Linked DNA regions of Homo sapiens: regions 1, 2, 3, 5 and 6 are each reported to be linked to region 4. Evidence: microRNA targets listed by miRTarBase, many of them from high-throughput screens and not tested one by one. Region 4 holds a microRNA gene; each other region holds the end of a gene's coding sequence.
Evidence for each region. Region 4 holds the annotated microRNA hsa-miR-4498 (UGGGCUGGCAGGGCAAGUGCUG, at 2,130-2,151, opposite strand). A microRNA usually pairs through its seed, bases 2 to 8, with sites in the 3' UTR of a target mRNA and lowers its output. Matches are read on the target gene's strand: a 7mer-m8 pairs with bases 2 to 8, a 7mer-A1 pairs with bases 2 to 7 and ends in A, and an 8mer does both.

Region 1 (5,084 bases), not on the chromosome of region 4:
ATCATTAGGATTGAGTGCTTTTGCCCTTTGTAAGTATTTCAGTGAGATGTAGGAAGAGAGGGGATAGTAGAAGCATAGGGGCTATTGGGTGATCTGATATGAGAATGCTTTACTGCAGAATTTCCCAAAGTATGTTCCTTGGAATGTTGTTTTAGGAGAGTCTTATAGGTGATCCACAGTTTTAAATCTCCTTTTTGGAGATTTACTATGAGAATTAGCAAATTAAAGGCTCTGAGAAGTCCTGAGTAAAGAAGTCAAGTTCACTTTATTTAAATCTCAGCTTTTTTCTCCCACACACCACTTTTTCACAGCTGCATTTCTGACTGGACCTGGCTCTAGGCTTAGGCTGGCCAGTAGATTTCCTTCTTGGCTCTCTCCTCCTTGGAGTAGCCAATTTCCTGGACAACTGGCTCTTTTGTCTTTTAACAGTACTTGGCACCAAGGTGTTGTGATCTTCCCACTGGTTTTTTCTCTCTTTAATAGCAAAGAACACTAACTCTAATAGATCCTGCCATATTCTCTCCACTACCTGCTCTAAATATGCAACCCAAATGCTGGACCCTTCCTCTTAATGGGAGTGAATTAGTGTGTGTGTATGGGTGGTCGTGGTGGTGGTGGTGTTTGTTGTGTATTTGGGAAGGAAAAGTGGTCTGTGAAATCAACCATCTGTGAAATCTAGCCATGTGGGTATCTGTCTGTGAAATCTAGCAATCTGGATATCTACACATGGGCTCTCTTTGCCACCCTGCTGCCCATGTGAGAGGTGCTGTAGATGTCTGCTAGTGATGGGAAGTAAAGGGAGTTCTATTCTCCACCTTCTGGAGCCCTGAGGAAGGTTCACTCAGTTCTTCATTTCAAATTTACTATAATAGAAGTAAAGTCTTATGGCACTAGTGATGAAGTATAGGGCATATCTTCCCTGGTGCAGCTAGGTATGTACCATCCCTTGGCTATAGGCAGGGGCAGAGGTAAGGGGGTACAAGGCTGTTTTCGTACACTACAAAGCATATCCCTCAGGTCCCCTTTTTATTCTTCATATGGACACTTCCCCTCCTTCCCTGTCTCCTCACCAGAGTATCTCCTGAGATCTTCATCTCTTCTCCACTCAAAAATTATGGTCCTTCTTTTAGCCATTTTCTGAGTCTTGCAAACCTTTAAGACTTTGGTAGGCCGTAGCTATCCTTGTGCTTTTAATTTCTGCAGACAGGCAAGAAAAAAAAAGCTGTGGCTCCTAAAATCTCTGTGTTTGTGTAAGCACTCATGGAAATCTATACTATGAGGAACATCTTGCTTTTTCCCTTAGGTCTGGATGACTCCAGATCTTTAGGGAATACTACATATCTTGTATTTAGAGGGATAATTGCCTGCTAACACTTGATGTTTGCAACGCTTTTGGGCCTGATTGTGTAGAAAGAGCATTTTTCTCTTCTAACATTGACTTAAATTACAAAACCCCTGCTTCTGTTATCTGTTTCTGTATAACAAATCACTCCAAAACATAGTGACTTAAAAAATCCCCACATAGTTATCTTGCTCATAAATCTGTAACTTGGGCAGGGCTCAGCAGGGACGACTCATCTCTGCTCTGTGATGTCTGCCACCTCAGATGATGAAATATGTAGTCTTTCCACAGGGTCTTTCCTGCATGGTGGCCTCAGGGTAGTTGAAATTCTTATGGTATCTCAAGGTTCCAACAGTGAGTGTTCCAAGAGATCAAGGCTAAAGCTGCTTTTAAAACTTAACCTCAGATGCAATTTGAGATGGGGTCATTACTATGTTTTGAATATAGTTTGTCCCCTCTGAAACTCATGTTGAAATTTGATTGCCATTGTGGCTATATTGGGAGGTGGGCTGAATGGGAGGTGTTTGGGTCATGGGGAGAATCCATAATGAATAGATAATGCTATCCCACGGGTGTGAGTGAGTTCTTGCTCTCTTGGGACTGGGTTTGTTACTTCAAGAGTGAGTTGTTAAAAATCAAGGCTGCTCCTTGTGTTTGGTCTCTCTCTATTTCTTTGCACATGCCTACTTTCTATTCTGCTTCTCTGCCGTGTTATGATACAGCACATGGCCACCACCAGAAGCCAAATAAATGCCAGCGCTATGCTTCTTGGACTTCCTAGCCTCTAGAATTGTCAGCAAAATAAATCTCTTTTCTTTATAAATTAACCAGTCTCAGATATTCTGTTATAGAAACAGAAAATAGACTAAGACAGCCTTGTAGTACTACTTCTGCTGTGTTCTATTGGTCACATAAGACCAGCCCTGATTCAGTGTGGGAAGGGACTACACAAAGGAAAGAATATGAGGAGGTAGGGATCTTTGGGAGACTACCTTGGAGGCTAGATACCACATCTTCCTTCTATTCAACTGTAAAAGGCAAACTCATTTTTAAGATTCATCTTAATTAAACATGCATATGATGTGACATCATTGTACCAAAAAGTTAATGGATATCATGACAGAAAGAAGAGATCAGGACACATGTTTCTGATGCTCCTTTCCAGCCACTGTATTGTTTTTATTAAATGGAATACTGAATTAGAGGCAAAGAGCATTTGTACTAGGCATCCAATTTTACAGAAAGGCAGTCATATGATCTACCCTGGCTCTCAAAGAATCCATCTTGACATCGTACACCTGGTTTTGCATGTGGCATCAGAGAGGGAGGAAATTCTGGATGCTGGCTTTAAGATAAGAGTAAGGCATCCAAACTTCTGTGAAACCAGCAGCCATCCCCTCTCAGTTCCCAACTTCACACTGAGCGGGAACAAAAGAAATAAATGGAGATGAATGATGCTTTGGTTTGGGAAATAATGCTTACATGCATAGGATGCATCCACTTAAGTCTTTTAAAAACCATTGTTCTAATGATTTTATTGCTCTGTAACAAAATAAATCAAACTGACATTGATTCCAAGGTGATTGTGAATTGAAGTTTAACCATGTTAATGACTAATAGGATGGAAGTTTGAATGCTAGGAGGCTTGAGTAGGAAGGCATCACAGTATATTGCATTCTTGTAAACATTAGTATAAGTACAGAGTAATAGAGATTCCCCTAGATGATGCTAATTGGGCCCCTAGTTCCTCTACTTTCTGAAGGAAGAAGCATTAGGATTCTTTTCCATTTTACATCTGCTAGGATTTCATATACTGCCCTAAAGAAGAATGGACTCCAATTTGGCTACATTTCTTCTAAGATGCTGTTGTTGGTTCCCCTCCATGTTCCTAGTTCCCTGCAACGTAGGCACAACCTTCAAAGTGGAGTCCTATAGGACAGCATGAGGGAAAAGTGCTGCCTCCAATAGAGAGGATGTAAAATGAAAATGGAGACTTTTTGTGATAGTCTCTTCCCCAGGTCCATTGCCTTCAAGCAGGGACTTCATAACCGAAAGGGCTGTATAATCTTCAATAAGTAAGAACTCTCTGCTCCACCTTTCCCCACTTCTCCTCCCCACTGTATCTATGTCTCATGTCCTGCTCTGTCACCCAGGCCAGTACCTAGAACAGCAGGAAGGATGGCCTGTCATCAGTCTTTAGGCAGGTCAGGTCTTTGGAGGTGATGCCATGTCAACATAGCCCTCACATCTAATGCACACCACCAGATGTACTCAGAGGACTGAAGAGAAAGAAAGAACAAGCTGGACACTCTGGACAGCACAATCACAAAGAGAGGAAGCCTGGAGAGCACTGGAATGCTGGGGGCTGGGAAGCAGGTCTTTCTGATGCTTTGCACAGAGATTGCTTGGGGCCTGAAATGTGATGACACTGACTGATTGGTACTGGTGACATAGGTCTGGAAGCAGGATAATACTTAGCTACATGGATCTGAACCTTGCACTGGGCTACCCTGCAAACTGGAGCACACTCCAGTGTGTTAACTTACACCACACAGACAGGAAAGGAGTGGGATCCTGGGGGACAGCTGTGGTTTATAGTCCTACTGCTGCTGCCAAGCATGGCATCTGGCTCTGCCTGCTGACTCTCTCAGCCTCGTCCCCACCTGTGGCAGCCTGGATATGCTGTGCAGTGGGCCCTCTGTTTTGTGGCTATTACTCCACAGTCTCAGATACTTGATTCTTGTCTCACTGTTTCCTGGGGGGCTGGGTCAGTGCGGCAGCTCCTTTGGGTTGACGCAGTGTGAGATGAGGCAGAGGCATCGCAGCAGAGCTTGCCTACTGCAAACGGAGGAGGAGCCAGCAATCAGATGTTTTCTAGTACATCAAGGGGGATGAGGCCTTTCTTTTTTCCACTGAGGACTCTGATAAAACCATCTTGTTCTTCTTCAGAACTCACGCAGATCTGAATGCCAAGGAAGAAAAAAAACAAAATACTTTACTGTCAGCAAGAACGAAGTTAGAACCTGCAGCTTGAATCCCTGCTGACTGAGGTTGCAGGAGCAACAAACTGGAAAAGGGAGAGCAGTTTTAGGGTGGGAAACCAGCACAGTGAGAAAAAGGTTTGATAAAAAATTAGGCAAAAACCTAGGTTTGGAATGAGGCCCAGGCATTGAATGTTTTCTGAAATTTAGCTTTATGAATGAGGATCAATAAAATGAGGATTAATAGTACTGTGACCCTCTGAAGAGTCACTGTGAGGACAGAATGAGATAATAATGTTTGTCAAGGAGCCTAGCATGTGGCATGCAATGAATTCTCAGGACATTATTTTAAAGGACCAAAATAATAGCTATCATTCAGCAGACTCCTGTCATGTGCTCAGAATTTTATATGCACCTCATATAACATCAGGAAGTCAAAGGGAACTATTTCACTCCTGGCCTCAAGCAAATAGATGCTAACATTTCCCATATTCTAAAGTAAGGCCACCTATGCTAGACTTTAAAAAGGGGTTGGTAAACATTCATTTGGATACTCTTGCCACTCACCACTCATTGGCCACTGAAGGGCATAGAAGGGTGGATGTGGGCAGATGAAAATTAGAAGAGGTTTATGAACAGAACTATTGTTGTGTTGTGAGTTTCTCTTGCCTCACCTGCTTCCATGGATGACAGGCCTTGTCTTAGGTTGGATTCCCCAGAAACAGAACCTGACACAGGGTTCCTTGTACAAGTGACTTATT
Region 2 (5,084 bases), not on the chromosome of region 4:
AACCTCTGCTGCACTTGGGGAGGGAGTATTCTAGCCAAAACTAGAAAAGCCTGCCCCCTAGTTTGAACTACCTTCAAAGCTGGCGGCAGAAACCATCTGGTGAGTGGCGTCCCTCCCGCTGGGGACATAGTCCCTTTCAGTCCAGCCCAGGCTCTGGACTGTCTACTGCTCAGCGGTGGTGCCTCTTGCTCCGCCTGCCCACTGAAGCTGTGGCAGCAGCATGGGGCAGACCCAGAAGTCACACCACACCTCACTGAAGCAGCCACTGTGGAGGGCCCAGGCCATTGTGAAGGTGGAGAAGGAGGAGGAATGGGTGCAGACCTCAACTCTCCCTGCACTCAGCCGGCAGGGATGAAGGAATGGCCCCAAGCTCTCCAACTGTGGCCATTCACCCTTCAGCAAGGGGATGGCCATTCCAGGAAGTTTCTGCCTGGGATGAAAACACAGCCTTCAAGGAACAAATAACTTGAGGGGCAGAATTCTGTCACATGGGAAACTGGCCATGTGATTCGCCAGGCAAATTGCTCTCCCTTCCCAAGGGCTGTGCTGCCTTTCTTTGGGCCTCAAAGATAAGACAGCTGCACAAACCACCTGCGGGTGTGCCCCTGCCCACAGGGGAGAGGCCACAACATGCCACAGCTGGGACCCACGGAACAGGTATAACCCTGGCTCCTCTTTCCCCAGATGCTTGCTCTGCCAGGGCACGAACACTCCATGTGGATCAGGGTCTCCTGCTCCCCGTTCCAGCAGATGCAGACCACCAAGCAGAGTACAATGGGGCAGCCCCTCCACTGTCCACAGAAAGTACTGAGCTCCAGCTCCCCCGGGCCAGGGCTGGCAGGAGCCCTGCTTGGGGAACAACCTGCACAGCTCCATCTGTCACACTAGGGGGTCACAGCCTCCACCAGCTCATAACTCTCCTGCCCCAGCAGCCCTGACATGAGCTCCCCTTCCTTGGAGCCTTGTCTTCTGTGAATGGATGGAAGAGGGCAGGAATCTTAAGAGACAAAGAATATTTTGAGTAACCCAATGAAGTCAAAGAGGAAAGAAGCACTCTCGTCTATTCACCTCCCACACATGGGCACTGGAATTTACGTTTGGACACAGATTTCAAATGTCACAAGGCCTGGCTTGGGACTTTCTCTCCAAGATGCAAAGCAGGCGCCCTTCAGAACACCTTTGGCCTCTACTCAGAACTCCTGGGAAGTGGCACAAACACATACATTTGGTCTCTGTTCCCAGCTCTGGCTGCTTGCCCCGGACAGCCTGAGTTTTTTCTCCAGCATGGGGCTATCATAGCTATGCACCTCCTGATGTTCGGGCCCAATGTTGGGACAGGCTCAGGGTCCAGAGCTTCCCAGATCCACGCTGCCCATGGTGCCCCAGCATCAGGAAGCCATCTCAGCAGCTGACCAAAGTGTCTTTTATTTGTGACATACAAATACAACCAATGCAAGAAGAGATCACTTTTTCCCTTTGATTCCAGTGATAACAAGCTGCTAAAGAAAAAAAAAAATATATATATATATATATATATCAAGGAGTTTATCTTCCAAATTTCCTCTTAAAAAAAAATTAAAAAGAACCATTCACATGTCCTATACATACTTGACACCAACAAAAATAACCTGAAATAGGGTGGATATAACTAAAATTTTAAAAATCTTAAAAAAATCTTAACATGCTCCAAACAAACAAACAAAACACAAAAAGCCTGGTAAAAAAGGCCTGCTATGTTTCTCTTTTTTTTTTTTTTGAGATGGAGTCTCACTCTGTCGCCTAGGCTGGAGTGCAATGGCGTGATCTCAGCTCACCACAACCTCCACCTCCTGGGTTCAAGCGAGTCTCCTGCCTCAGCCTCCCGAGTAGCTGGGATTACAGGCCACAACCACGCCTGGCTGATTTTTGTATTTTTTAGTAGAGATGGGCTTTTGCCATGTTGACCAGGCTGGTCTTGAACTCCTGACCTCAGGTGACCCGCCTGCCTCAGCCTCCCAAAGTGCTGGGATTACAGGTGTAAGCCACCGCACTCAGCCATGCCTGCTGTTTCTCAAAACCAAGACCTGGGGGAAGTGGAGAAAGATGGATGTTTTGGAAATGAATGGGCTCAAGACCAACAAGAGTGATTGCAGGTCTCAGATAGTGCCTCTCCCACCCTAGTCCCGACCTCCTGAGGAACCCTTCAGGACATGGCCTGCAGAGACTAGGGTGAGCAGGGTATGGCACCAAGCACCCATTGACCAGTTGGTGCCACGTATCCAGTGACTGGAAAGAGACAACGTAGACTGAACTCACCTTACAAGGGATGAACACGGGGGGGTCCCTTTTGGTCCCCTTGAGTGAGAGGTATCAGGAATCCATGATCTAAGACAATAAATATTTAGCATCTGTGTCCTTTCAGAGACAGGGACCAGAGACAAATCTCTTCCTAAACATGCTCCTGTGGTTTCATGATTCTTAGGAGTCCACCAAACCCCTCCAGCAATGTCAACTCTGCCTGGGATGAAACCCACCAGGAGCCAGCAGGGTGAGGCAGAGGCAGAGGCAGACTTATTCCAGTGTAAAGCTGCAAGGCCCTCTCTAAGGAGTTCCCAGTCCCACTGCTGCCCATCAAGAGCAGCGCAAAGTGCTCAGCAGAGGGGCCAGGCTGGGTGAGGGAGGCCCTGTGTACACAGGCTCCTGCACAAGCAGGAATCCAGGTGAGAAGCAAGGACCACTCTGGGGAGATCTGCCAGGAGAGACTGCCAGAGTTGGGCAGAGGGTGGGATGTGAGCAGATGCTGAGGTCAGAGGGACCAACAGACCTCCACGAGAACAACTTCACGAAGGCTAGAACCTTTATGATACTCCCCACAGCAGAGCTCAGGGATATCCAAAGGGAGCTGTTAGGTGCTTTTTCCTTGATAAGGATTTGGCTTTTCTTCCCTGGAAGAGGAACAAGGCCTAGAGATCAGGATGAGCATTAGTTCTGAGCCTGCCTTTCTATCCTATGAGAGAAGAGGAAGGCTTTCTCCTTCCCCTGCTCCAGCCTGTTGCCACAGGGTGACACCAGAGAGAAAAGCAACTGTTGGCCACTGAGAGGCATTTCTGCTGCAGCCTGAGCTATGGCCCGGCTGGGCCACGGCAGTGGCACTAGTGCCTCACTGAGGCAGCGAGGGGCAAGCCTGAGGAGTGCAGGCAGAGGGGCCTGCTGCTGGCTGGGGGCTCTCTGAAGAGGGAGGGTGGCTGTGGGGAGGTGTGCCCTACCCTTAGAGAGCTATCAGCACCAAGATAGGAAAATCAATGGAGTTAACTACATGAGGAACGAGAAGTCCTTCTGGGGAAGATGAGGGGCTCCCTGATGTTATTCTCCCCTTGAGACTAAGAACAGAGGTATTTGGGGTAGAGGTGAGAGGCAGAGGAGAAAGAACGACGAGGGCTGGCAGACAAGAACAAGCAGAACCTCTGGCTTTCTTCTATGAATCAAAAGCTCAAGTCACTGCCATGAGACCAGGAGGTTAAGCTTAGAATGCAGCAACATCCAGGAGCCTAGAGAAGCAATCATCCCCATGGCGGGTCCCAAGAACACCTCATTGTTGGTCCTTTCAGGCTCTCTGACAGCGATGGAGAGGCAGTCTTCCTCCCAGAGTCAGCTGGTCCCAACATGAGCCCACTCCATGAATCCATAAAAACAGCTGGAAAGAGCTTTCTTCATTTCCCTGCATCTTGGCACAAAAGATCTTCCCAGTCTCCGTTAACAGCAATTCCAACTGCGCAAGCGTGAGTCTCTCTGAAGCCGCCCTCTACACCCAGATCTTACACCCAGTGTGTTCCTCTTTGGGGACCAGCAAACCCCAGACCCAGGACTCCAGAACTTTCATAAAGGTGGACATAAACATTCCATTTGTCCAAGTGTGTATGTGTCAGGGGAGGGGAGGTTGCCAGGAATCTAGGGGCTGCAGAGGTGCGAGAACCTCCACTGCAGGCCCCAGGAGCCAAATGAGGAGGCAGCCACTGTGGAGGATGAGCTTCACTGCCCGGCCCCACCTACTCTTCCCTCTCCCTTTCATTCCCTTCTAGCACTCTGGTCTCCTAGGAGAGGAGGAGCAGCTGATACCACTTCTCCCCAGGGTTCTGTGCTCTCAGGGCGCAGCCTGGCACGTGCAGGGCTGGGGAGGCCACAGCTCTGAGGACACCCGGTGAACAGTGAGACCAGGAAAGAGGAAAGGCCTTAGGAGAGAGCATTGTGACTTGAAAGTGGCTCTGAGAGTTCAGTGGCAGCAGCCACCACAGTGCCCACCCGCGTGGGAGTGATGGCTGTCCCCAAACTTGGTCCTCCGGCTCAGGATCTCATAGGAGCAATCCTCCCCACAGCAACCGGACATGCTGGGGGAAGAGTCATCAATTTCAAATCTGCAAGGCAGGCAGGAGAAAAGGGTTGGTGGCAGGCAGCTGAGTGCCTTCCTCCCTGGCCCGAGAACTCTTCTACCAGCCACACTGATGAGACCCTTAGGATGAGGGTGCAGGAGGTGGACAGTGGACCAAATCAGAGAGCACTGCCATACCATCTCCCTGAACCTGAACCCCCATGGACCACTGGACCATGAGCTCAGGCATCAGAATGAGTGAGGGCCAGGACCAGAAAAATGGCCCTGGGCAGGCCCACCTACCACCCAGAAGGGCCCACACCCAGCTCCTTACTGCAACGCTTCTCTGAAGAACTGGTAGGCACCATGATTGTGTTTAAATACTGTTAACATAACCTTCTTCATCTGTGTGCTGGAAGAAAGCAGAGCAAACGCCTTTTAGAAAGAGAAACATGGCCAGGCATGGTGGCATGCACCTGTAATCCCAGCACTTTGAGGGGCAAAGGTGGGAGGATCATTTGAGCCCAGGAGTTAGAGACCAGCCTGGAAAACATAGTGGGACCCCATTTCTACAAAACATTTAAAAATTTAAAAAAATCAGCCCAGTATAGTGGCATGTGCCTTTAGTCCCAGCTACTCCAGAGGCTGAGGCTAGAGGATCACTTGAGCCTGGGAGGTAGAGGCTGCAGTGAGATACGATCACACCACTGCACTCCAGCCTGGGTGACAGGGTGAGACC
Region 3 (5,084 bases), not on the chromosome of region 4:
TCAGCTTCCTCATCTGTGAAGTGGCAATTAGAAGCCCTTGTAGGGTTGCAGTGAGAATTGAGAAAGCTGTGATTTGAAGTGCCAGTGCCATGCCTGGCATACAGAAGGTGACCAGGGGGTGGTTCTCTCCTCTCTGAGGAGCGGTCAGGGTAGTATGGGGTGGAGGGTTTGAGGGTGGAGGAGCCTGGCAGCCATGGCCTCACCTGGCACACCTCCTTGTTCCCACAGAAACACCTGGCTGGGCTGGGCCTGACTGAGGCCATTGACAAGAACAAGGCCGACTTGTCACGCATGTCAGGCAAGAAGGACCTGTACCTGGCCAGCGTGTTCCACGCCACCGCCTTTGAGTTGGACACAGATGGCAACCCCTTTGACCAGGACATCTACGGGCGCGAGGAGCTGCGCAGCCCCAAGCTGTTCTACGCCGACCACCCCTTCATCTTCCTAGTGCGGGACACCCAAAGCGGCTCCCTGCTATTCATTGGGCGCCTGGTCCGGCCTAAGGGTGACAAGATGCGAGACGAGTTATAGGGCCTCAGGGTGCACACAGGATGGCAGGAGGCATCCAAAGGCTCCTGAGACACATGGGTGCTATTGGGGTTGGGGGGGAGGTGAGGTACCAGCCTTGGATACTCCATGGGGTGGGGGTGGAAAAACAGACCGGGGTTCCCGTGTGCCTGAGCGGACCTTCCCAGCTAGAATTCACTCCACTTGGACATGGGCCCCAGATACCATGATGCTGAGCCCGGAAACTCCACATCCTGTGGGACCTGGGCCATAGTCATTCTGCCTGCCCTGAAAGTCCCAGATCAAGCCTGCCTCAATCAGTATTCATATTTATAGCCAGGTACCTTCTCACCTGTGAGACCAAATTGAGCTAGGGGGGTCAGCCAGCCCTCTTCTGACACTAAAACACCTCAGCTGCCTCCCCAGCTCTATCCCAACCTCTCCCAACTATAAAACTAGGTGCTGCAGCCCCTGGGACCAGGCACCCCCAGAATGACCTGGCCGCAGTGAGGCGGATTGAGAAGGAGCTCCCAGGAGGGGCTTCTGGGCAGACTCTGGTCAAGAAGCATCGTGTCTGGCGTTGTGGGGATGAACTTTTTGTTTTGTTTCTTCCTTTTTTAGTTCTTCAAAGATAGGGAGGGAAGGGGGAACATGAGCCTTTGTTGCTATCAATCCAAGAACTTATTTGTACATTTTTTTTTTCAATAAAACTTTTCCAATGACATTTTGTTGGAGCGTGGAAGAAGATTGGATCAGGAGATTCTTACACCATTCTTCCCAGGGGACAAGGTCTCCTGTTAAGGCAGACTCGCTACTGATGGCTCATATCAGGCCCTGGAATGCTGGCAGATCGCTGGCAGATCACTGTGCAGACAGCGCCAAGTGGCAGGTGCATTCCGTGCTGACCCGGGAAATGGTTCTGGCTCTGGCAGCCCTGGAGAAGTAGCAGCTGCAGGACCTGAATGAGAGCACTGGACCTGGAGCCAGTCTTCAGCCTCTTCGCCTTTCTTTCTTTACCCTTTTTTTAAGATGTGAATCTTGCTATATTGCCCAGGCTGGACTCAAACTCCTGGGTTCCAGCGAACCTCCTTCCTCAGCCTCCTGAGTAGCTGGGACTACAGGCAGGGCTATGGGCATGAGCCACTATGCCCAGCTCCCCTAGCCTTTCCTTGCACGCTGACCTCATGCTACATCCAGGGCTACAGGTACAAACTCAGGCACACATTTAGTAAGTTGCCTGGCTTTGGGCTGGGCTTTGGAAGGAGATTGTGGGGATCCTTGCCCTTAGGTGGCCCGAAGTGTTGGATTTGTAGCAGGGGAGGAGGAGGCACCCAACACGGTCCTTTTTGACACAGTCCTCCGGTTGGATGCCTCATGGTCCTTAGGGCTCCTGACACCGTACCTTAGGGAGAGAGAGGGATGCACGGAACAGAGCCAGTGGCCAGGGAGGCAGAGGAGCAGAGGATATTGGGCTGGAGGCCCATTTCTGCTGCCTGCTGGCCTTTTAACCTAGGACAGGTCATTTTTCTCTCTGGGCACGTCCAGCTTTCCTCTGCCAAAGATTGTGACCTGGGGGTTGTTGGTTCAGGAAGGGACCCCTTACCTGGCTGAGCAATCCAGCAGTAGCCACCAAGATGTACATGGGTCTGCAGAAGGGCCAGCTGATTCACTCCCATCATTGCCACGACAGAGTTTCAGCAAGACTGCTCAGAGTCCCAGGGCCATCCTGTGCTTCGGCTCAATCATTCAGATCTCTATCCTCAAGGGGCTTTGTCTAGAGGTGGAGACTTAGGGATAGGGTACTCAGTGCTCACTGTGTTCCAGGCACCTGGATCATTCTGTTCCAGGTGTGCCACGCTTGTCCCCCTGCCTCAGGGACTTTGCACTAGCTGTCCTTTCTGCCTGGCAGGCGGTTCTTGTAGATGTTTGCAGGGTTGCTTTTTGTCATCCAGGATTCAGCGTAAACGTCTGCTCAGAGAGGCCTTCCCTGACCACCCTACACAAGCAGTCCCTCTCCCACCTCAGTTTCTCTACCATGATTTCTCACTTTACTGACTCCTTAGCACTATGAAATTACCCACTTAAGACTTCCCTGCCTGCCTCCCCTCTTAGAATGGAAGCTCCATGAAGAGAGGGTCCATGGCTGTTTGTCTATTGCAGCAAATCCTGCACCTAGCTTTAGCATCATGCACATATCGAGGAAGGCTCCCAGGAGGAGGTGATATGGGGGCTGCTTTAAAGGGTGAGTAGGCATTTCTGGATCAGAATAATGCTTTGAGTGCAACCAGCTGGTACGCCTTTGTGTTTTGCTCTTCCTATGTGCCAAATACTTAATATGTACAATTTTATCCAAGCTTCCTAACAGCTTGGCTAGTTAGGTAGGGATTGTCCCCATCTTACAGGTGAGATAACAGGCTGAGCAGTTAAGTGAGCTGCCTGAGGCCCTACAGTCAGTGGGGGCCGAGCTGGGACTAGATCCTAGTCGGTTGGGTAGTTGCTTCGCCACATAGGAAGGGCAGGAGAGGCCCCTAACACAGTGCCTGGAACCCAGCACTGAGCACAGATTCTAGTAATGAAGGCATGTTAACTTGCATACGATCTGTATCCATCTCTCTTAATCCTTGCAATAGCCCCGTTAGGTGGGAAGTCATCCTAACTTTACAAGGTGTAGCTCAGAGAAGGCAGAGACTGGGCTGGAACCCAGGCCTCCTGGCCCTGAAGTTCAGCCTGTGACAGCTCCCCCACCAAGTGGGAATGGGCAGTAAAATAAGCCAGGCCCGGGTGTGGGGCCACCGAGAGGACCCAAAGGGGGTCTTGAGGCCACGCTCCTCCATCCTGACTCAGGTGGGGAGGGTGGTAAGAGGTCTGTGCTGTTGCATCTCAAACACCCGTCCGTGAGGACTGGAGTTGCTGGTGTGTGAGTGGCAGTGCAGGTGGCAGAGGTGGGTGAGTTAGGGGTGGGGTGGGGTCTAGAGGTTGGTCCAGCCAGTGTTGCTGCCCCCCAGTGCCCCATCACTGCCCTGTGTGGAGCTTTCCTGCTGCCTGGAGGCCATTGGAGGGATTACCCTGTTATTCTCACCCTGGTGCTTGTTAAAGTCTTGGGAGATAATAAGCCTGTTGGATTGTGCGGGTCCCAGATGTGGATGCGGATTAGCCTTCTCCTGAGTGCCTACTGTGTGCCTGGCACTGCCATGTATGATTTCATTTACTTTTCAGACTTCCCTCCAGAGTAGCTATTACTGCTCCATGTTATGGACAAGAAAACTGGGGCTCAGAGAGGGGAAGTGACCAGCTCAAGGCCACCCAGCAGGACAGTGACAGAGCTTGGCTCACATGGGAACCCAGGTTTCCTGGCTGTAGAGGAAGGAGAAGTTACTGACGTGTGTGAGCTCCATGCTCCACAGTTTGCAGGGGGCGGTCACCCATCTTTTCCCCAGTCCCTGCAGCACGGGGCTTGTTGTCCTGACACTCCAGCTGTGACCTCTGCGACAGCATGCCCTTGTCTGCCTGTGTCCTGCTGCATCCCCGCACTTAACACAATGCCCGGCACACAGGAGGCGCCTAATAAATGCACCTTCTAAGGAAGCAGTCTAGTGGGAGCTGTGGTGTTTAGCAGCAGAGGCGTTGGAGCCTGACAGACCTGACGGGCGTCCCAGCTCTGCCACTTCCTAGCAGTGTGACCATGGGTCAGTTACTTACCTTCTCTGAGCTTCAGTTTCCTCAGTAGTAAGGTGGAAATGATAACAGTACTTACCTCATAAGGTTGTGGTGAAAGTTAAATGAGGTAATCCATGGTACTTGGCAAATACATAGCCAATAAACATTATTAGTAGTTACTAATAAGAGAAGGTAGTGATTCAAAATCATACAGCAGAGCTGGGATTTGAGCCTACCTCTCTGCAACTGTAAAAAGCCTGACCCCTTCCATTATGCCACAGTGCCTTGGGTTCAGGCTGGGCTGAAGTGTCAGGGGAGACTCCTGGAAGAAGGGGCTGGAGCTGGACGACAAGAAGGAAAGAAGCATTCCAGATGTGAAGAACAGCTGGAACAGAGGTGCAGCAGTTGCGATGGGCAGGGTGATCGTGGAACACAGGGAGGGGGGTGGTGAGGAGGGCTGAAGTGGGAGATGGAGGATTGAACTGCTACATGATGGGAACCCCCTGGATAAGGCACTCAGAGGGTCAGTGAGCATTATTAGAGGCAGGACAGATGGCCCTCGCCACTCAATCCCTCTGAATTTCCCAATCCTCTGTCCCGCCACTCCCGCTAACTCTACAGCCCCTCTCAGTTCTCACCATCTCCCCTTCCCATTTGCCCATGCTGTCTCCTCTGCCTGGTCCCAGGCCCCTCCCATCTCTGCCTGTTGAGCCCCCTCATCCTTAGAGGCCTATTTCAAAGGATACTATAACCCCCAGGGAACCTTCCAGGCCCCTAGACAGAAGCATGACAGCATGCACAGCAGCATCCCTTCAGGTGCCCTGGAGACACACCATCCTTCATGCATCTTGCTGCCGTCTTCCGTTTTCTCAAGTGTGACTTTTCTCAGTCTGCTCAGCCCCACCACGTGGTCGTCTCCA
Region 4 (5,084 bases):
TGGCATCATTGGGCGCGTTCTTCAGGAACTCCTCGAATACTGGCAACAGCGAGTTGACGTTCTCCTGGAAAGCCAAACCCCTCAGAGCCTCAGGTCAACCCTACAGGCTGCATCTGGGGACAACAGTCCCTGCCCTGAGGACCAAGACCAAGTCTAGCTCTGGGACAGGCATCCTGACATGCCAGCCAGTGGCTCTTCCAGTTTTCTGGCAGGACTGCCACAGACTTAAAAGAATTTAACACACTATCATGGTCTTTTTGGCTCAAAGTGCTCTGCCAGGACTCTTGGCACTCAGCATTTCTGGCCCCTGCTCAGCCCTAGCGCCTGCCTCCCGTGTCTCCTTAGCGGGCTGGGACCCCCTTACCTTCCCGTGGGTGTTCCCTGGCTGGGACCCCCTTACCTTCCCATGAGTGTTGAGCGTTGCGAGGGCTGCATCCAACATGCACTTCCGGACATCTGGGTGTCGGTCATTGAGGGCATCAGGGACAAAAAACTGAAAGAGTGGCTTCACCTGAGAGCTGTCCAAATACTGGGAGAGCTTGTTGAGGGCCAACGCCAAGCCACACCTGGGAAAGAAGTGGGAGCACATCAGGAGGGGCAGTCAGGGGGCCTCCTCTGCCAGTGGAACCTCTGCTGGTGCACGGCAAGGAGAGGGAGCTTGCCTGAGGCAAACACTGTTTTGGGGGCAGAGAACAGCCTGAAGCCCACCACCCAGTGCTCACCCAATGTTCTGGAACAACCCACTTGTCATATGGAGACTTGCCATCTGCCCTGATTTTACCTCCTACTGGGTGACCAGCCCTGTGTTGGTTTCCCCAGAGAGGAATGTGAGTGCAATGCTCACCCCTCTACCTGCAAAGCAGGTTGTAAGAGAACACAGAGGTAAAAGAACCAGATGTAGAGGCCTGTGGAAGTGAACACATTCTCCAAGGGCAAAGTGTTGTTACTCTTTCCAGTCATGGAGCAAAGAATCTGTGTCCTATCCCTGGCTGATGGTCTGGAATGAAAAATAAGCCAGGATGGGCCCATACACCACCCTACACTGACACACAAGGCCTCACGGGAGTGGACACGGCCAGGATGAGCCATTCAGAGAACTAACACCCTTGCGTGTTTTGAGCCTGCTCTGTGGGAGGCAAGTGTCTTTCAATGTCCCAGTTGCTCCCAGACATCTGTCTAATCCTCCAACTGCTACTCATGGGCTCTGTGGAGAAAGGCTGGTAGCTTCTGTTATTGTGCCCTGCATATAGATGAGGAAACAGAGGCCTGGGGAAAAGGAGAAACACGCTCACGGTCACGCAGCTAGTGCAGGAGAGGACACTCTAAGGAACTTACTTAGAGTTCATTTTAATTGATTTAACTTTAGCCACATGCGGTTAGTGGCTACATCTTGGACAGTACAGCCTAGAGAGAGGTGAGGAGGCAGGTCAGAGGCTCTTCTGAAAGATGGTGCCTCACACGGTCCAATCCCACCCCTTCCAGGGGCTGATGGAACTCAGGCCTCCCCGACTCTGAGGGAGGTCCTGCTCTTTCATTAACCCATGCTGCCTCCTCACAGCACCCACCCAGCCAACCTGCCACATCTCACAAAGCTTGGAGTAGAACGAGGCTGAACAATTGTTATACCTGGCTTCCCACTGATCTGGAGGAGATTCTGAAATAACTCGTCCCAAAGCATCCAGCACTGGGGGCGGCCGCTGCAACAGACAAGTTGGTAAATGCTTTGCAACGGGCAGATCAATGACCTGGGCACCAGGATTGTGAGGCAGGAAACTAGCCGCAGCTACCCTGAGCCACCGTGAGCCCCGAGATTCCTGTCTGGAGCAGTAGCGGGGTGAGCAGAGACCCACCCAACCGCACACACCCAGACTGCATCAGGGCTGCACAGGTCACTCACGTAGAGCTTTTCCTGGTAAATCTCCATGAGCCTGCCCATAACCTCCGCCGCCTGCCGCTGGTAACGTGCCACTGCTTGGGAGAGGGCTTCGGCCCCTGCCTGCCTTACAGCCGCCTCATGATAGATCACGTCGTCAATCAGCAAGGAGCAGAGGTCTGGCTGCAGGTCTAGGCCCATCATTGACCAGAGCCTGTGGGAGATCCAAGGCAGGGGCTGCTTAGACAAAGATCTGCAGCACTTGCCCTGCCAGCCCAGCCCTTCTTCCCACTGGAGGCTGAGCACACTGGGTTCAGTTATTTCCTAAAGGAAGAGAGGATGCAGCAGGAGAAAGCGACATGCTGGCTCTCTCACCTCTCAGCCAGCTTCCGGATCTCCTCCTCCTTGTCAAACTTGACCACCCAGAGTCTCCGCAGAAGGTTCAGGCCATTCTTCTCATCAGTATCAGGTGCTGGCAATACCATGTGGAGTTCCATCAGCCCCTGGAAGGGGTGGGATTGGACCGTGTGAGGCATCATCTTTCAGAAGAGCCTCTGACCTGCCTCCTCACCTCTCTCTAGGTTGTACTGTCCAAGATGTAGCCACTAACCGCATGTGGCTAAAGTTAAATCAATTAAAATTAACTCTAAGTAAGTTCCTTAGAGTGTGAGGTGGTAAAATGTTTTTTTAATGTGAAAATTAAAACGTTAAATAAACCAGACAGATAAAAACCTCAGAAAAAGCGTATTCCTTTTGTTCAAAAAAATTTTAAGGAAAAATTTACTATATTGTCATCATTTTCACATTTTACCAAAAGCCAGTGAAAACTCTGTCACATATCAATAGCAGGAGGCTGTGGATCAGCAGGTAGGAACCACTGTCTTACCACTACAAGGGGATGCTTCAGTTTTTGGTCCAAAAGCCATGAAGAAAAACCAAGTACATGGCAGTGGGCTAAAGAATTGAACTCCTCCTGCAAGTTAGCTCTGTCCGTGGAAGTACCAAGGTCCACATTCCAGTTTAAAAATTAAGTGAAGTGTTCCAAGGTAAAGGAAAAAATACAGTGATACATCATGACTGCTTAGTGTTCTGATTCTCAGAGAGACCCCAACCATGTGACTTCTTCTCTTTGCCTCTAGGCCTCCCACCAGAGTGAGGGACATTCTCTCAAATGCCCATCATGCAATTTGCACTTGCATAGAGTGACAAGGGACACTGCAGTGGCTCTGAGACTGAGCACACACCCGGAGCACGGTTTCCCGCACGCTGGCACACGGGGACTGCAAGGCACAGAGCAGCACGTCCACCTCCTCCTGCTCTGCAAAGGCACAGCCATCATCACCACTGCTGCTGGCACACAGGGTGGTCAGGGTGTCTGAAGCCAGAACCTAAGGAGAACATCAATCCACTGGTTCAGTCAGCAACTCATTTACTACTAGGGGGCCAGAGAGGGATATGCACTGAGAACACCCACCCCTACAGCACTGCAAGGGCTAAGACCCCAGCTCCAGTGGCAGGACCCAAGCAAAACCCCTCACTAGCTAACAACAGTCAGGCTGGCTCTCTAAAGCAGTCTTTCTACCAAAGTCCAAAAGTAAGGGCTGAAAGGAAACTAGGACTCCACCCTTTACACTGGGACTTGAGGTCTGGGTCACGAACTGAGTCACAGCAACAGCCAACTGAAAACCACATCACCTGTAAGCGAGGCGAGCCCGTCCCGATCACCCAAGTCAGAAGACGCAGCATGGCCACGCGAGGCAGCAACTCCGGGCCATTCTAGGAGAGAACGGCAGGTAAGTCGAGATGAGGCTGTGGGGAGGTCTGTAACCCAGGCGGCCAACGGCAGGGCATCCTCTCACCCACGGGGGAACATTCTGGATCATACAACCGGCCCCACCACAGAAACCTCATTAAGTTTACAACTAGGTCCACAGGTGCTAACCCCAGTCAACCATGATCCTCAGGAACTAAAAACTAAATTCTGAAACTTGCTTGAAATTCACACTATGAAATCCAGAAAGACCGTAAATATATGAAGAGACACTCAACTTTAAATGAAATGCAAAATAAAATGAGATTATCATTCTTTCACTCATCACTGACGATATTAATACTATCTGAGGTTGCATTAAGGCTTTGAGAAAAGAAAACTCTTGGTGAGAGTATAGCTCAGAATATGCCATATAATCTAGTAATTCCATGTCCAATGAACCTGTCCTAAAGAAATGCTCACACTGGTTAAGTAAGGGGCATATACATACAAGAGGGCACATCACAGTGCTGTTCAAAACAGGAAAAAGTTAGAAACAACCTTAAGAACTCATCAACAGGTAAAGAGTTAAGTAAAACATGGTACATCCATAGCACAGAATCTCATGCAGCCAACAAAGTCAATCAGGTGAACTGACATGTACTGGCATGGCAGGAGAGCCAGAGTCTACAATCACATGAAAGAAGCAGTCTGACCCGTTTTTGCCTTAAAAAACCCACAACACTGTGTGAGGCTGCTGTTGGTATAAACATACACTCTCTATTTCCCCACCAGGAACTGTTCATGAGACAAAACGTGTCCACAGGCCCTGCCTCCCTGATCCCCTTTAAACCAAGAGGAGAGCAGAGCTTCCCTGCCAACCTCGTCCACCCGCCCGGGTGGGGTGTTGGGGGAGGCCCTCAGCTGGGCTTGGACAGTGAGGATCTGAAGAATCTGGGCCATCCACTCCTCCTCCTCCTCACTGTGGTGGGGCATCTCCGTCAGCACCATCTTCAGAAACGGGAAGACTAAGGAGAAGGCTGGCGCGGACAAGGGCGCAGCACCTGTGAGAGCGAGAAGCAGATAAGATTCTGCAGGCAGGGCAGGGACCCGGGCCACTGCTGCCTATTTCTATCCTCAGGGAAAGTAGGGAACGGATGGACCAGAGGCCCGTTCTGACACCTGGAAGCACATGGCACGAGGACAGAGACAGCAGCTGGTAGTCCAGTTCTAAAACCAATTCTGCTTCTACTGCCAAACACTGCCCAGTTCCAGGATGTGAGAGTTAAAACAGAGATGGGGACACCAGTGACAAAAAGTAAACCCTCAACTGGGCTCACTGCAATTCACAGACTACGAAGGTTCAATTCAGAAATCCTCCATATGGTCCAATCCCCCAGGCTCAGGAGGCCCTGGGTGACGCTGTGCCTTGAGCAGCATTCCTGGCACCAGCTCACACCG
Region 5 (5,084 bases), not on the chromosome of region 4:
TGAGCTCCTTTCCTGGGCTGTGGGTGGCTGAGTCCTTGCTTTAAGGCCTGTTTTCCTGTGTCAGCCACACAAGGTGGCCCCAGCCCCTGGGCAGGTGGTAAGAAGCATAGGTCCTGGACCCACCCTGGAGTCCCGTGTGCAGGAACAGGCTGTGGACTCCTATGTGAAGTCCATTCCTGGGGCTCAGTGTCTCCTGCAGTCTGACGCTCAGTTATGTGGAGAAATGGGCAGTGGGACTGTCCAGGCTGAGAGCCTGGAGACCTCCAGCACCTGCGGGAAACCCCATCTCCATAGTGCACATTCTCGATACTCTCGTGGCCTCCGGGGGCATCAGGGGGCTAAGCTGAAGGACCCGATGGCCTCTGGTGGCCCTGGCCCAGCTGCTCTGTCTGCTCAGGAAACACCGCAGCATAAGGCCGTCCAGAGGAACGTAGGGCTTTGCCAGATGTCGAAGCAGACAGTGGCCTTCGTGTGGCAGCTGCTCCAGATGTGGAAAGGTCACAGGGGCCGCTGGCTGCGGGCTCATGCCAGGCAGGGGCAGGCCGCCTGAGAGGGTTTGCTGTGGGACCGCCCTGGGCTCTGAGCCCTGCCTGCGGTGGTGCAACCGGCGGTCTGTTCACGCCCGTCTCTGCTGTCGGCCCGCAGGCTTCATCATCTACTTTGGCTATGGCCTGTGGCACAGCGAGGAGGCGTCCCTGGATGCCGACCAAGCAAGGACTCCTGACGGCAACTTGGACCAGTGCAAGTGACGCACAGCCCCGCCCCCCGGAGGTGGCAGCAGCCCCGAGGGACGCCCCCAGAGGACCGGGAGGCACCCCACCCTCCCCACCAGTGCAACAGAAACCACCTGCGTCCACACCCTCACTGCAGCCAAAGGTGCAATTACTTGACCTGCAGCCCCAGCCCACCCTCGGCTCTGCAGCCGGTTCTCCGGGCCCTGGTCACCTCCAGACAGCTGCCTGGCCGGGGCCACTAGGCTGCGGCTGGCCACTGTGTCTCCTCACTTCTCTGAACAAAGCAGTTCCTCCCCTACCAGCTCAGCCCCGAGCTGCCGCAGCCTCAGGCAGAACGGAGGTCACCTTCTCTCCTTATCTTGGGAACCAGGCCTTCCTCCCGGGGACTGTTCTGGGATTGAAATTGTGCATACTCCAAACTTTCGCAGCCATCTTCCCGCTCAGCCCCAGACACCCAGCAATCAAGCCAGATGAGTACCACAAAACAGTGTGTCCCCAGCAGCTCCCCACCCCAGAGCCAAATGACAGTAGTGCACTTAAAAAGGAAAATCAGGCCTGTTGTCCTTCTCCGGTTGCATTCAGATGGGTCATTAGGGCCGGACCCTGCCTGCCCCTTGGCTTCTCAGGGCTTTGCTCTGACACCATGACAGCTGCCCGGGGCTGAGGGCAGCTGGCTCCACTCAAATGAGGAAGAAGGGATCACTCCCATTAGGGCCTGCTTTGCTTATGCATGTGTGTGCACATGCATGTAAACCAGGGACCTTCAGCTCACGGCCTCCAGGCCTGGGCCAGTTCTTGCTGCTCCTGCCGTCTCCCCCGACTGGCTGTGTCCTGAGTAACTGGAACATGAGACAGTATCTGCAGGACTGGCCCCATGGTGGCCGAGTCAGAAGTCTGTTTCCTGTGAGTCGCCACCGTTCACTCAGTCTTGCCCTCCCATGCTTTGGAGCCAGTCTGGTGGCTCCTGTAAGGTTCTCAAGGCTGGTGGCAGCTCAGTCTGGGGTCAGGACATGTCGGGGTCATGCGTTTCTGGCCCTGACATAAGCTGTCTGGCCTCTCTGTGACATGATGAAATTGAAATCAATCCACAGTCCATGAAATTGTGACACTCCACCAGATTAAGTTAGGGCATAACATTAACTTGGAAATGGCCATGTCATCACCCCTGCGGCTGTCCTATAGCTGAGATGCGTGGGTCGCAGGGGAGGTGATTTCTAGGCATATTGCTGTCCCTTTTGTGTATCTGTCATCCGGATGCTTCGGACCCCACGCCTCTGCAAGTGGGAGAGACCCGAGCATCCTCCCCACCCCCATAGCTCCAGTGCACGCCACCCCCGTCTTGCCTGGGTCGGGGCCTGCGGCCAGCACCATTTCACACACACTCCTTGTAGATGGGAGCCAGAGGAAACCTGAACGTGGGTGGAGCGTTCCACTGAGTCTACTTCAGGAGACAGAAGGCCCATGCTGATGGGGGAGGAGGAGGGATGTGGGCATTTTGGACACCAGGGGAAATGGAAATGCTGCTTTCAAAACTTAGTTTCCTTTCCATTTCTTCCTAGTCTGGCCTTTGACACAAATCTGGTAGAAAGAAGCCTGATAAATTGAGGGCACTTGTACCCTCCCTGTGCCCCCAGAAGGTTCTTGGAGAGAAGTGCAAGAATTTGTGAACACGGCGGTGGAGGGCGGGTGGATGGCCATGGGCTGAGCCTCCGTATCAGGCCTGCTCACCTTGCTGGGAGCTTTATTCTGATCTCATTTTGAATGTTCCAGAGGGAGCATCATAAGAGCCCAGAGCTCCGATTTCCAAAGAGTGATATTGACATTTATGGAGATTGGTGTTGTAACATATTTTGATAAATACTAACTTATTTTGTTGGGGTTTTGGTTGTCTCTTGTCTTAGGACCTGGTAGTTATTTGCTTGATTTTTTTTTCCGTTATTTTCTACATAGGCAAAGAGAATTCGAGGGATAGACAGTCTCCAAGAAAAGTGAAGTGGTGGGAGAGAATTGCTTTTTTCTTTTTTTTCTTTTCTCTAGTTTTTCTTTCTGGCTGAGATTTCCGTGCAAGACAGCACCCAATAGACTATTTAGAGTTGACATTTGACATTTTAATGGGCGCCATGGCTCATTTTGTAGATTGAGAAGGTGCGTCTCCCCTGCTCCAAGTCTCATCATGACAGCGTGCTGACAGCTGGGAGTCTGTGGCCTTCCTCACGCAGAGGCCTTAAAGCTGGACACAGAAGCACGCCTAGGCTGGGCAGGGATGGGACCCATGCCCCCTCCTTAGAGGACGGGCTTCCTGGTTAGGAAAGGACACGTGGGGGTGCCTTGCATAATAGTTCACTGGTCACCGTGCTTTTATGAGTAGTGTTTTTGTGCACTTGCCAGGGGTTTTCTCTCTGTGTGAGAGGGGAGTGATTTAAGCAATGGTGTCTGGAGTAAGCCTTACAATTTTAATAGACTTTTTCTTATCATATCCCTCATTTCTTTCCCTGAAATAAAAATACACACAAGCAAAAAAAAAATGATAGTTTCACATCTCTTAGTTCCCTTGCCCAAACAAGAATATTCTTAGTTCCACTGGCCAGGATTTTCCTACATAGTCAGAACTTACACATTACTAGAGGCACACCCACCAAGGAGTATTGTGTCTACTTTTATCTGTGCACCAGCCACAAATACCCACATTGGAAAGACCCATTTGTGATGGGTAAACATCCCTTCCTGTCTCCCACAACCCCTGTGACTGCCCTGCATGTGTTCATGACCTCCGAAGGCCCAAATTCATGAAGCAGCAAACCCAGCAGATCTCCACCCCCCTGCCTCAGGACCTCTGCTGAAGAGGGGGATGAAGTGGGTCTCCAGGGAGGCAGTGGGGGCCTTGTTGGCAGCTGGCTCGGGAGCCGGCTTACAGGAGGGCAGCTCTGCAGTTGGGAGGGGCACCGTCCGGAGGAGACCAGGCCTCTACACACCCCCCACTCTACTTATCATCCCTGCTCACACACCCTTGTCCAAGGCTTTATGCATCGGATTTATTTTTCCAAATCAAGAGGACAGTGATAGATGCATTTTCCCCAGGCTGTCTCAGAAAGGTCGCTAAATGTATACTGTTGTCAGAATTGCTGAGATCTCCCCCCACTTTTGGTTTTTGCAGCAGTAAAAACTCTTTCCACTGTGACTTATTTTCTCTCTCAGGCAGCCAGCCACCTGGTCCCTTGTGCTGACTCTAGCACAGTGGCCAGGATCCAATACGAGTCCAGGGGTGACCGCAGGATGGTGGGGGCAGCGGGCTTCTCCACCTACCCCAGCCACCAAGGCCCTGACGCACTGCCTCCTGCACCTTCAGCACATCCCTGTGCACAGCTGGAAGGGTGCATGGCCCGCTCACCTTTGTTCAGATGGGTGGAAACGCTGATGATACCAGCTCCTCCCTGCCGTGCCCCTGCCACGGAGCAGGCATTGTGAACTGGCTGGTGTTTGCAGTCCCACGTGGCATGGCCTCCAGCCCAACCCACAGTGGAGACTGGAGACAGGGCAATGAGTCTGGTGGGGGGCACGTGGACATGCCCCATAGGGGCCCCACCCAGACTTAACAGGCAAGGTCCTGGGCATTGCGCGACGCAGGACTCAATGCTAAAGCAAGCCTGCCTGGCTCTGTGCCAGGGCCCCTCTTCTGATTCACACATCCCATTTTTACACAGACCCTTCCTTCTTAATAAAGGCTGACAGTTCTGTTGGCAGCCAAGAACCCACACCATGAAGACAGGGAGTGAGGGGCCTTTGTGCCCAACTCCAGCACAGCTGCGTTCTGGGGTGTGTGAGAGGCATGTTCGTGTCTGTGCGCTGGTGGTCTCGTGAGACAGTTCCGAGGACGGGGAAATTGCAGGGTGGTGGGGGCGTGAGGCTTATATGTGGAACTGATGCAGAGTTCGCCTGCAGACGGATCTGGATATACACTATGTATAATTGTTACGTGTAATTTAAAATATATCTGTTTGCCATCGTCATGAGAAGATTATATGTAAGGCTCTGAAGGGAGAGGGAGATGTACATTCTGCCAGGCTCCTGGGGACCTTATCCGAGTCATGAAATTGATTACTGTTGATCCAGTGGTGCAAGAAGCTACACTCCATGTGTCATCACGCTTATGACTCCTAATGTATTTTTAAGGCAAAAAATGTCAGCCGACTCCATCTTCACCCCTCGATTCCTCGAGTCCAGCCTTTCTGTGCCAGTGCTTCACTGAGCCACAACGCTCTCGCCATCGGGACCCGGCTGGGCCTGGAGTCTCGGGGCACAGTTGCCATGGAGCCCTCCTGGGTCATTCTACAAATGTGCTGAGTGCCAGCT
Region 6 (5,000 bases), not on the chromosome of region 4:
CTGGGACTACAGGCGCTCGCCACCACACCCAGCTAATTTTTGTGTTTTTAGTAGAGACGGGATTTCACCTTGTTGGCCAGGCTGGTCTCGAACTCCTGACCTCGTGATCTGCCTGCCTCGGCCTCCCAAAGTGTTGGGATTACAGGCATGAGCCACTGCACCCACCCGGAGGCATTTCAAACCATGAGATGGGGTGAAACCTTCCAGGGAGTGAGAGAAAAGGTCTAAGGACTGAGCCCCTGGGTTCCCCATCATTAGGAGGTCAGATGAGAAGGAGCCAGCCATGAAGACTGGGAAGGAGTGGCTGTTGTGGGGAGGTGGGTGGTGTCCTAGACACAGGTATCTTTTTAAGGCAGAGGGGCCCGGAAAAGGATCCTTGTAGTTTGAGTAGTTATGCCTCTCTCTGAGCATGGGCAGTTCGTTGGTGAACTGACAACGTGAAATACACATGATGCAATTCCACCGTGTGTCAAGTTTGAAAGCACTCCCTGCCAGTAGCGTGTGGGAGTGTAGGAATGGCAATTGTAATGAGACATCACAGTGTAAAATTCCTGAGCTCTGCTCTAGTACAGCCTGGGGACAGACGTCTGGGCCAAGAAGGGCTTCTGTGAGACAGCATGGAACAGTGGCCTGGTCAGAGAGACTTGGGCATGCATCTGAGGGCTGTAAGCCTCAGTTTCCCCATCTGTAAAATGGAACTCTAATCGCTGTCTCCATCTGGGAGGATTTTGTGAGGATTCAGAGAAACTGCACATGAAATGCTCCACCAGGCCCAGGAACTTACCAAGGTCTCATAAACGTGAATGATTCTATAACTGTCAAGCCTCTGCCAGGGGTTCTGAATGCTCGAGTGCAGACCAGAGCCCATGGGGACGCCCCTGTGCAGATCTGCTCAACCATTTCTTTCTTTCTTTTTTGAGACAGAATTTCACTCTATAGCCCAGGCTGGAGTGCAGTGGTACGATCTTGGCTTACTGCAACCTCTGCCTCCCAGCCGGGTTCAAGCAATTCTCCTGCCTTAGCCTCCCAAGTAGCTGGGACCACAGGTGCTTGCCACCACGCCCAGCTAATTTTGTCTTTTTAGTAGAGATGGGGTTTCACCATGTTGACTAGGCTAGTCTCAAACTCCTGGCCTCAAGTGATCCACCCACCTCGGCCTCCCAAAATGCTGGGATTACAGGCCTGAGCCACCGCGCCCAGCTATTCACCCATTTCTTACTCCCCCACTCAAGAAGTCACACCACTCTTGTCATTCCAAGAAATCTTAATTTCTTTATTGTTTGACTTTTTGACTCAACAATTTTTTTAAAACTTTTTGTTTTTTTCTGAAACGTTCTTGTTGTTATGAGCCTTTTGTTTTGTTCTCGTTAAATGCACTCGACCCAAAATTGGTTTGGCATATCGAAAAGGAGACCAAGGAGGGAGGGGCTGGGGCGTGGGAGGTGGGGAGGAGGCCCGAATGGACAGAAAGTTGAGGATAAGAGAAGAGGAACATAGAGACAGCCAGAAAGACATGGGGAAAGAGTGTTGGAGACAGAGAAAGGGGAAGGCAAGGGAAAGCCAAAAGAAACCAAAATCCAGAGAAAAAGAATTAACAAGATTTAGGAGCAAACGAGTTCAGGAGCCTAAGGAAGGGAGTAGGAGAGGAAACCAAGACCCTTCTCTGTACCGTCCCAGCTGGGGTGGGGGCGTCAAGGCACCAGGTCTGGTTAGGTTGGGGGGACACCTGGGCTCTGGGGGCGGCTTTGCACTGGACTGCAGTGATGTCCAGCCCCAGCAGGGGGCCCTGCCACACAGCTCTGAGGCCTGGAAGCCACCCGGCGATGCCGGCTGGAACAGGACCCGATACACCCTCTCTCCCTTTGATTGTCCGAGTCTGGAGAGATACAAGGAAGGCTGGGCAGGGAGGAAGTTGGCCTCTCTGTGTGCCTCAGCCCCCTGGAACTCTCCTGGCCCTCCTCCTGGTGTCGGGGGCAGCCACAGGCTGGGCTGCTTCCCGGGACAGGCCAGCTCCTCGCCTGCTCATGCCTCCTGCCCGCTCTTCACAGACCTCTGACCACCCCTCCACACAACAGAGCTCCCAGCCTAGTGCAGTCCGGGAAGGGCCATGGAACTGTCCCTTGCCCTCCTCAGAGTCGTCTGGCAAGACTGTCCCTGGCCTCACTTCTCCTCCCCATCTAGACTTCACCCATGGTCTTCTGGTGTAATGGGTTAGGCCTTTCTACCAGAAAAAGCCAGAGTTGGAACCCAACCCCACCTCTTCCCCACACCTGTTCCCTTACACGGGACAAACCACCATCTTTGGTCTGACCCCTTCTCCCCTAATTGATGGGGACAAGCCAGCCCCAGCTCCCCGGGAGAAGGGAGGGGCTTTCTAGCAGCAAAAAGGGTCCCTCCAGCCACCTACCTGTCCCCTTCCCCCCAGTTCCTTCCTAGAGCCCCTCCCCCTTAACCCAACAAAGTTCATGGCAGCAGCAGGCTGAGACCCGAAGATGTTTGAAAACTCATGGCACTTGTGAGAAAAGGAGGGGCAGAGAGATGGGGAGAGGTCAGAGCAGAGGTGGAGGGGCCACCTCTGGGGAAACGGCAATGCAGGGGCTGGGCTAGGGTGGCCTGGGGCTATGCTGCCCCTAGAGTTGAGGGAAGGGGGCTGGGGAGGCTGGCCTGACAGGCTGGAGAGGAGGGGGCCGGGACAGGTGCTCAGGACACATCCCGAGCCTGGAGCTTCCGGGGTCTGGGATTTGGGGTCAAGCCGCCCAGAACATGGGTGTCCCGACCCCAGCCCTGGCACCTGGCTTCGTCTTCCCTGCGGGAAGGTGGAGGATAGGGAAGGTGATCTCTCACCTTTGCCCCTCCCCATCCCCCAGACCGCCTTGCCGTTCCCAGCACCCTCCTCAGCCATACCCATGCCCTCCACAACCCCAGTGCCTCCCCATTTTCCTTCTGCCATCAACCTCTCTAGGTGGGAAATCAGCCCCATCTTCCCCGGCGAGAGTCCCCAGAGCAATATACAAGAAGCAGGAACTCAAAGGGACAGCGCAGCCATCTTGACAAAGCATCTTTGGGTGTGAAGAGGTCTCCCCCGGGCCGGTGGGGAGGGAAGGGGGAGACAGGCCTCTGGTCCTGGGGCAGGCAGTGAGAGGTACACGCCCCAGAAGGGCTGATGATGCCGGGCAGGCGGAGCAGGAAAGGAGGGTGCCAGGAAGGAAATGGGTTCTTTGTTTCGCTGTTGCATCTAGATTTTGTTTTCTGTCTCTGGATTGTAAAAAGCTGCTCTGGCGGCCCGCCCGCCCCGGCGGGGACTGGGGATGCACGTACACGGAGAAGTCCTGGCTGCCAGGCCAGCAGCGCTGCTCTGCTCCGGAGAAAGCCCGGGCTGGCCCGGGCCGCAGGCTCCCGGTGGCTTCAAGTGATGAGATTTTTTTTCTTTTCTTTTTTTTTTTTTTTGTCTTTTTTTTTTCTTTTCCATTTCGTTGAAATATTTACAGCAATGGGGAAGGAGGAGGAGAGAGGAAGGAGTAAGAGGGCCCCCTAGGGAAAGATCCAAGCCCAGGACCCACTCCCCAGGGAGATCCAGACCCAAAATCTGCTCCCCAGATAGCCGAGCCCACAGGACTGGGAACTGCCCAAATATGGCCACCCCTGTGGGCTGGGGGCCCTGCGGGGAGTTGTGCTTCATCAGGAGTCGCCCCAAGGGAGGGGGTCATTGGGTGCACTGGGAGGCAGAGGGGGCAGGTTTGCTTGCGGGGCAGGGACCAAGAGCAAGGGGAAAGGAGCTTCAGAGAAAGTTCAACCTTTAAACCACCAGCCACCACCGCCCAGTCCCCCTGCCCTGCGGCCTTTTCCCAGTCTCCAGGGAGCAGGGAATTACAGCGCAGGAGGAACCTGTCCATCTGTCCTGCCTCACTGCTCCCTCTGGGTGCAGCCGGCAGCATTTCTGGCTGCGGAGAGGAGCAGCTAACAGGTTCCATCCAGTGGGGGCCTTTGGCAACCTCAGAAGCTGCCCCTCCCTGCCCAGGAAACTAAAGCCCTCATTTCCCTTCACAGGGTAGAAGGGTGGGAGAGGGGAGAGTCTGGAAGTGGGCTGCACCCTTCCAAGTTCTCCCTCCTCACTCCCCTGGGGTCCTCTGGGCTCCTCCTCACTACACTTCCCCCAAATAGAGCTGGTGCGTGTGGCTGGTGGGAAACCCTGTCTGTGAACCCTGGCACCTCAGGCCCCCAGGTTAGAGTCCCCTGAGGGGACTGTAGGGCCCATGGCTGAGGGGCACCTGGAGAGAGTGGCCCACCAGCCACTGCCTCCATCTGTCTCCCTCTCCCACCAGAGCCCTGCCCAGGGTTCCCTCCCTGGCCTGGGCCACCAGCCCCTGGTCCATGAGGTGCCCTCAGAGACTGGTGACCAGCTGCATCTGCCCGTCCCCATCGGGCCCTGGCCCCTCAAGGCCTGGGGCTGCCAGGTAGCCCTCGTGGCTAGGACGCCGCACCTGGTAGTAGCCCTGCAGGGGATTCCGGGCCACCAGGGCTGGCGGGCGCGAGGTGTAGTAGATTTCGGGGGGGCCGGGGGGTGCGGGAGGGGGTGGGGGCAGGGCCTCACTGGGCCCCTCAGGGCTGCTGTCCGGGTAGGAGGGTGAGTCCCGCAGGTTGGCCCCGCTGGCATAGAGGGAGTCCCGGCCAGGAGGGGAGGAGAGGGGCCGGCTGGTGGCGCCGTCCTCGGCCGTGCAGCTCTCCGACTCGTCCAGATCGCTCTGGTACAGCACCGACTGGGCCCGGGGCAGCAGCAGAGGCTCCTCCAGGGCCTTATAGAGAAGTTCAATCTCGGCCCGGTCAGCACCCCCGGGCCCGCCCGCCTCTTCCTCGCCCCCGCCCCCTGGCACAGGTGGCACAGGGGGCTCAGGCGGTGGAGGGCCCTTGGCCGCGCTGCTGCTCCCCCGCAGGTTGTTGTGCACCAGCTCTGAGATGATCATCTTCTCAAAGGCCGCCGCATCGGCTAGGTTCCGGCCTCG

Region 1: miRTarBase lists STAC as a target of hsa-miR-4498. Seed matches in the 3' UTR shown: 7mer-m8 at 4,103-4,109 and 7mer-m8 at 3,705-3,711.
Region 2: miRTarBase lists NAA40 as a target of hsa-miR-4498. Seed matches in the 3' UTR shown: 7mer-m8 at 4,145-4,151 and 7mer-m8 at 3,415-3,421.
Region 3: miRTarBase lists SERPINH1 as a target of hsa-miR-4498. Seed matches in the 3' UTR shown: 7mer-m8 at 891-897.
Region 5: miRTarBase lists SLC7A1 as a target of hsa-miR-4498. Seed matches in the 3' UTR shown: 8mer at 900-907 and 8mer at 4,236-4,243.
Region 6: the mRNA of ADGRL1 is a reported target of hsa-miR-4498. Seed matches in the 3' UTR shown: 7mer-A1 at 4,081-4,087, 8mer at 3,646-3,653, 7mer-m8 at 3,374-3,380, 7mer-m8 at 2,648-2,654, 7mer-m8 at 2,596-2,602, 7mer-A1 at 1,986-1,992 and 1 more.

The regions. Positions count from the first base shown.
Region 1 is chr3:36,545,411-36,550,494 of GRCh38, reverse strand. It overlaps STAC (SH3 and cysteine rich domain), which reads right to left. Exons shown (of 11, transcript NM_003149.3): 11 at 2,488-4,304. The coding sequence ends at 4,206. Among named protein-coding and RNA genes, the nearest start is that of STAC, 170 kb to the right of the region's middle.
Region 2 is chr11:63,953,645-63,958,728 of GRCh38, reverse strand. NAA40 (N-alpha-acetyltransferase 40, NatD catalytic subunit) reads right to left here. Exons shown (of 8, transcript NM_024771.4): 7 at 4,680-4,757; 8 at 1,410-4,391. The coding sequence ends at 4,250. Among named protein-coding and RNA genes, the nearest start is that of NAA40, 17 kb to the right of the region's middle.
Region 3 is chr11:75,571,553-75,576,636 of GRCh38, forward strand. SERPINH1 (serpin family H member 1) reads left to right here. Exons shown (of 5, transcript NM_001235.5): 5 at 229-1,231. The coding sequence ends at 531. Among named protein-coding and RNA genes, the nearest start is that of MAP6-AS1, 9.1 kb to the right of the region's middle. RefSeq lists an enhancer at 4,955-5,084.
Region 4 is chr12:120,153,344-120,158,427 of GRCh38, forward strand. It overlaps MIR4498 (microRNA 4498), which reads right to left and starts at 2,156; the gene lies at 2,091-2,156. It overlaps GCN1 (GCN1 activator of EIF2AK4), which reads right to left. Exons shown (of 58, transcript NM_006836.2): 26 at 4,506-4,687; 27 at 3,569-3,649; 28 at 3,118-3,261; 29 at 2,249-2,376; 30 at 1,898-2,087; 31 at 1,627-1,697; 32 at 401-566; 33 at 1-64.
Region 5 is chr13:29,510,145-29,515,228 of GRCh38, reverse strand. It overlaps SLC7A1 (solute carrier family 7 member 1), which reads left to right. Exons shown (of 13, transcript NM_003045.5): 13 at 646-5,084. The coding sequence ends at 749. Among named protein-coding and RNA genes, the nearest start is that of MTUS2-AS1, 25 kb to the right of the region's middle.
Region 6 is chr19:14,146,491-14,151,490 of GRCh38, forward strand. It overlaps ADGRL1 (adhesion G protein-coupled receptor L1), which reads right to left. Exons shown (of 23, transcript NM_014921.5): 23 at 1,253-5,000. The coding sequence ends at 4,383. All of the region lies in intron 1 of ADGRL1-AS1 (ADGRL1 antisense RNA 1), which reads left to right. Among named protein-coding and RNA genes, the nearest start is that of ADGRL1-AS1, 12 kb to the left of the region's middle. RefSeq lists an enhancer at 1,388-2,131.